Linked DNA regions of Homo sapiens: region 2 is linked to region 1. A link means that fine-mapping ties the variant in region 1 to the expression of a gene that starts in the linked region. Tissue or cell type: monocytes. Region 1 holds a variant in brackets; the other region holds the start of a gene. All regions are shown on one strand. Distances are from middle to middle.

Region 1 (2,500 bases):
ACAACTTTATCACATTTACTTTTTGCCTTGGCTTCCAGAACTTCATAGTCAAGCCCGTTTACAGTAATTATAGTAATTTGTACAACTCTAGACTTGGAGTTTACTTCCTAGTGTTTTAAAATTTTTTCTATTTATTTTTTCTTGGCTTTATTTGTATCTATATTGTAAAATGCCTCATATCCTTTCTGAAAATAATATATAAACCAATAAATAGAAAAGAGTATATTAATTTCTATGAAAAATTATCAAGAAATTGGGAAAGGCTCATATCCCAAATAATATGAAAGCATTGGAGCAGTAGGATCTAAATTTACCTGTCTCCTCCATCATCTTCCATTTACTAGCACATGGAACAAGGGTAATAGTCATAATTTATGTCCCTTCCTCAACCAGATCTAGCATGTACTGTGTATTTTAGACCAGAAAGGACCAGGCTGCAGAAATACCACTATGACTAGTAACATACAGGTAGTCCTCCTCCTGCAACCCTACCACACACATACCTAAAACTTCTTGACCATTCTATCTGCTCTGTACTGGTAGATTGTGGAACAGGAGTTCTGTAGGACCCAAGCGTTATGTATATTGGAGAAAGGATTAAATAAGGGGCAACTAGGATGTTACTAAACCTAAGAAACTTTTTTTAGGTACTGTAGATACCAGGGTAGCTAATGATGAATGAGCCTGTTTACTCAGTAGCTAATTGCTAGGATAAACTAGTATCCTAGTAGCTTGTTGAATGTAACTATATTATTCAGTACAGTGGTTGAATATAATATAGTTCCAGATAATGGTAGGTTTAAAATTCCCAGGTGATAGATAAGACCATGGTTCAAAATAATTTATGCATAAGTGAACCTTAAGTATGTATTAAGTGTCTTTACTGTTCTCTTAAGGCAATAAGGTGTGGAAAAATTCATAGATACTCCCTTGGTTTTGCCTACTAAGCCATGGGCTTGGTTATTTCAAGCCTAAACT[C/CT]TTTTTTTTTTTTTTTTAAACATCTCAATTGGCTTTATTGGTGATTCTGGAATTGGGCAACACTTCATTCCATAAAATACATAAGTGTTCCGACAAGGTTGACTTTATAGACAGAGAAGGGCTGAAGAAAGACAAGCAAAGATCAAAGAACATGTTGATCATTTTTTTTTTTTTAATTGATCATTCTTGGGTGTTTCTCGCAGAGGGGGATTTGGCAGGGTCATAGGACAATAGTGGAGGGAAGGTCAGCAGATAAACAAGTGAACAAAGGTCTCTGGTTTTCCTAGGCAGAGGACCCTGCCGCCTTCCGCAGTGTTTGTGTCCCTGGGTACTTGCGATTAGGGAGTGGTGATGACTCTTAACAACGAGCACGCTGCCTTCAAGCATCTGTTTAACAAAGCACATCTTGCACCGCCCTTAATCCATTTAACCCTGAGTGGACACAGCACATGTTTCAGAGAGCACAGGGTTGGGGGTAAGGTCACAGATCAACAGAATGAGAATTTTTCTTAGTACAGAACAAAATGAAAAGTCTCCCATGTCTACCTCTTTCTACACAGACATGGCAACCATCCGATTTCTCAATCTTTTCCCCACCTTTCCCCCCTTTCTATTCCACAAAACCGCCATTGTCATCATGGCCCGTTCTCAATGAGCTGTTGGGTACACCTCCCAGACGGGGTGGTGGCCGGGCAGAGGGGCTCCTCACTTCCCAGTAGGGGCGGCCGGGCAGAGGCGCCCCTCACCTCCCGGGCGGGGCGGCTGGCTGGGCTGGGGGCTGACCCCACCACCTCCCTCCCGGACGGGGCGGCTGGCCGGGCAGAGGGGCTTCTCACTTCCCAGTAGGGGCGGCCGGGCAGAGGCGCCCCTCACCTCCCGGGCGGGGCTGCTGGCTGGGCGGGGGGCTGACCCCCCCACTTCCCTCCCGGACGGGGCGGCTGGCCTGGTGGGGGCTGACCCCCACCTCCCTCCTGGACGGGGTGGCTGCCGGGCGGAGACGCTCCTCACTTCCCAGACGGGGCGGCTGCCGGGCGGATGGGCTCCTCACTTCTCAGACGGGGCAGCTGCCGGGCGGAGGGTCTCCTCACTTCTCTGACGGGGCGGCCGGGCAGAGACGCTCCTCACCTCCCAGACGGGGTCGCGGCTGGGCAGAGGCGCTCCTCACATCCCAGACGGGGCGGTGGGGCAGAGGCGCTCCCCACATCTCAGACGATGGGCGGCCGGGCAGAGACGCTCCTCACTTCCTAGATGGGATGGCGGCCGGGAAGAGGCGCTCCTCACTTCCTAGATGGGATGGCGGCCGGGCAGAGACGCTCCTCACTTTCCAGACTGGGCAGCCAGGCAGAGGGGCTCTTCACGTCCCAGACGATGGGCGGCCAGGCAGAGACGCTCCTCACTTCCCAGACGGGGTGGCGGCCGGGCAGAGGCTGCAATCTCGGCACTTTGGGAGGCCAAGGCAGGCGGCTGGGAGGTGGAGGTTGTAGCGAGCCGAGATCACGCCACTGCACTCCAGCCTAGGCAC
Region 2 (2,628 bases), 190 kb before region 1:
ACACATGCATATGCCACTACGTACACAGACACATGTCCTCAGCCGTGTTCGTGCTCCGAGGGTGGGCCTTAACAAGAACAGCCCTCTGGGGGGCCTCCTGGGGTAGGAGATAGAGAAAGGGCTGTGGAGAGACGCGGGCACCTGGGAGGAAGGAGGAGGGAGATGGGGCTTACCTCTCGGCCCTGGCACCTAAGTTAAAGAGTTAAGGTGCTGGAATCTCAAACCCAGGCTTGACTGCCCCTGGGCAAGTTATATAACCGCCACCCCTCCCTTCACTGCTTCCTAATGAGAGTAACAGTACTTATCCCAAGGGTGATGCTGGAGGATTAAACGAGTTAACTCACTTCAAGTGCCTAGACACGTCCGGCTCCATGTGAGTGCTTCACTGAGGCCCACTGTCCCTACAGATCTACACCGGCGCACTCACGGGCAGTTACCCATAGACCCCCCAGTAGGCACACTCTGGCCAGAGTGCAGGTAGGCGCAGAGAGGCACACGGAGGGGTTTGGGCAGTTGGGGAGCGGATCGTCTCAAAGGCAAAGACGCTGAATCTCAAATGAGGAACCGAGGCGAGAAAAGGATGTGGGATTCACCGAAGTTGAAGGGCCGGGAAGGGCCTGAGATGGGGTCTCGGCCCTGTCCCCAAGCCGGGCGGCCCGGCCGGCTGGCCTCCCTGGGCGGCCACGTCTGCAGCCCCCGCCCGGGGCCCACAGGGGAGGAGCTGGGGTGGAGAAAGCGGCCGGGCGCGGGCGCCGGGGGCCGAGGAAAATCGTGTCTGCGCGCGCAGGGCGGGGAGCCAGTGGCAGCGGCGCGGTCCAAAAAAAGTTGAGTCCGCACCGACGTGTGCGCGCAAGGTCCCGGGATAGGTGCGGGCGCGGGCCCGGGATGGCGGCCCCGGGTGGCAGGCCCCGCTGCCCCGCCACGGCCCCTCAGAACGCGCCCTCACCGTCCGAGTCATCCAGCTCGGCGCGCTCCCCGTAGTCCACCCAACTGAGCCCCTCGAGGTTGTCATAGTCGCCGCGCCTCGGCCCGTCCACTGGCACCACGGTGAAGTGAGGCATCGTGCGGGCTCGGCCCCGCCGCACCCGCCGTCCCAGCCGCCCGCCGCTGTCCCCGCCGCTGTCCCCGCCGCCCCGGGCCGACACGCCCCGCCCGCTCGCATTCCTCCCCGCTGCGCTCACTTCCTCCGCCCGCCCCCCGGGCCGCCCCTCGGGGGCGGAGAGCGGGAGGGGCTCGGCCGGCTCCTCCCAGAGCGGGGGCCCTGGTGGCGGGAAGACCCCTGGGCGGGAGCACTCCTAGTGGCTCCACGGCCTGGGGGCGGGCCCGATTCCTGTGTGACCTCGGGTGAGAGGCCGCCCTCTCTGAGCCCCAGATGCAACATTTGTAAAATGGGGGAAACACACTTCCACCTCGGGGTTGTTTTAGGGCTCCGTGAGATGGGTCGCGGAGTGTCCTGGCTCTGCGCCCTGGGCTTACGAAGCGCTCTGTTACTTAGGGACGGGGCAGGGTAGGCCGGACCGGCCCAGGACTGCAGAAGCCACCTGCCCAGGGCCTCCCACCAACCCCGTATACCTCCTTCCCATTTCCAGCGTCTGCATCCCATTTCTCCGCGACCCTGGGAACCAGACCCCCGCGAAGGTCCCGTCCCAGCCCTGGGCCCTCTAGCTGCAGCCTCTCCTGTTGGAGGCAGCTGGGGATTCTCGGTCCCTCCCCAGGGGCTGCTGCGTCCTCCGCAGGAAGAACACGCACACCCACCCTTCCCCGCCCCGCTTGCCTCGCTTGCCTTTTTGGGACAGTGCACTGGGTGCTGTAGCCAAGTCCCTTCATTTTAACTTTCTCTATCTCGCCTCCTGGGTGTTCCTCTATCCAAGCCGTTTACTTATTTGCTTTTAACGTTTCTTTCACTTTCTTCTCCACTGCTTCAGATTACTTATCTAGCTGGCTTTACTATTTTTTTCTCTATCAGAAAACCCCAGAGCCCATCTTACTTGTCTATCTCCACTCTTCTCCCTCGCGTGGCTCGGGTGGCGTCCTCTGACTACGCCTACTGCCAGCCTCCAGCCCTTGGGGTGGGGGGTACGGAATCAGAGCCGCTGGGCCCCGCAAGACGACCCCCGAGCTTACCACCCTCTGACCCCTCCCCCAGGGCCCCCGCAGCGGGCCCGCCGACCTGACCCCCCCGCCCCTCACGCCACCTTCGGCCGCCCACAGTAGCGGCCTTCCTACTGGACTCCCTGCCCTCGCCCCTGCTCACGTAGAGCCGCCTCTTCTGAAGGAAAATCCTACTAGCTCCGGGCCCATAAGGCCCTGCCCAATGCGGCCGGACCCCGACCTCTGCAGGCGCATCCCTCGCCACCCACCTCGCAGCCTCAGCCCTTCAAATCTCTCTCTCTCACCTGAGACCTATAGTTTCTGGGCATCACCCACTGTTCACTCTGGGGGACATCTACCTAGCCTCTGTCCCTACCCTCACTTATCAAATTCCTGATCCAGGCCTGGCGCGGTGGCTCACGCCGGTAATCCCAACACTTTGGGAGGCTGAGGCGGGAGGATCACCTGAGGTCAGGAGTTTGAGACCAGCGTGGTCAAATAGTGAAACCCCGTCTCTACTAAAAATACAAAAAAATT

Alleles and levels. Alleles are on the strand shown, and positions count from the first base shown. SD is a standard deviation of normalised expression in the study named.
In carriers of allele CT in region 1, the expression in monocytes of the gene that starts at base 1,145 in region 2 tends to be higher than with C alone (moderate effect, 0.49 SD a copy in Quach 2016).

The links. PIP is the estimated chance that this variant, and not a neighbour inherited with it, causes the effect.
Region 2: it holds the start of SLC12A4, and the variant in region 1 is fine-mapped to the expression of SLC12A4 in monocytes (Quach 2016, PIP 0.95).

Annotation. Positions count from the first base shown.
Region 1 is chr16:68,161,611-68,164,110 of GRCh38, forward strand. All of the region lies in intron 4 of NFATC3 (nuclear factor of activated T cells 3), which reads left to right. Among named protein-coding and RNA genes, the nearest start is that of MIR6773, 71 kb to the right of the region's middle. RefSeq lists an enhancer at 1,954-2,500. The variant C/CT (reference allele first, on the strand shown) is at 979.
Region 2 is chr16:67,967,493-67,970,120 of GRCh38, forward strand. SLC12A4 (solute carrier family 12 member 4) reads right to left here and starts at 1,145. Exons shown (of 24, transcript NM_005072.5): 1 at 947-1,145. The coding sequence starts at 1,061. RefSeq lists silencers at 38-97, 608-937, 1,068-1,397.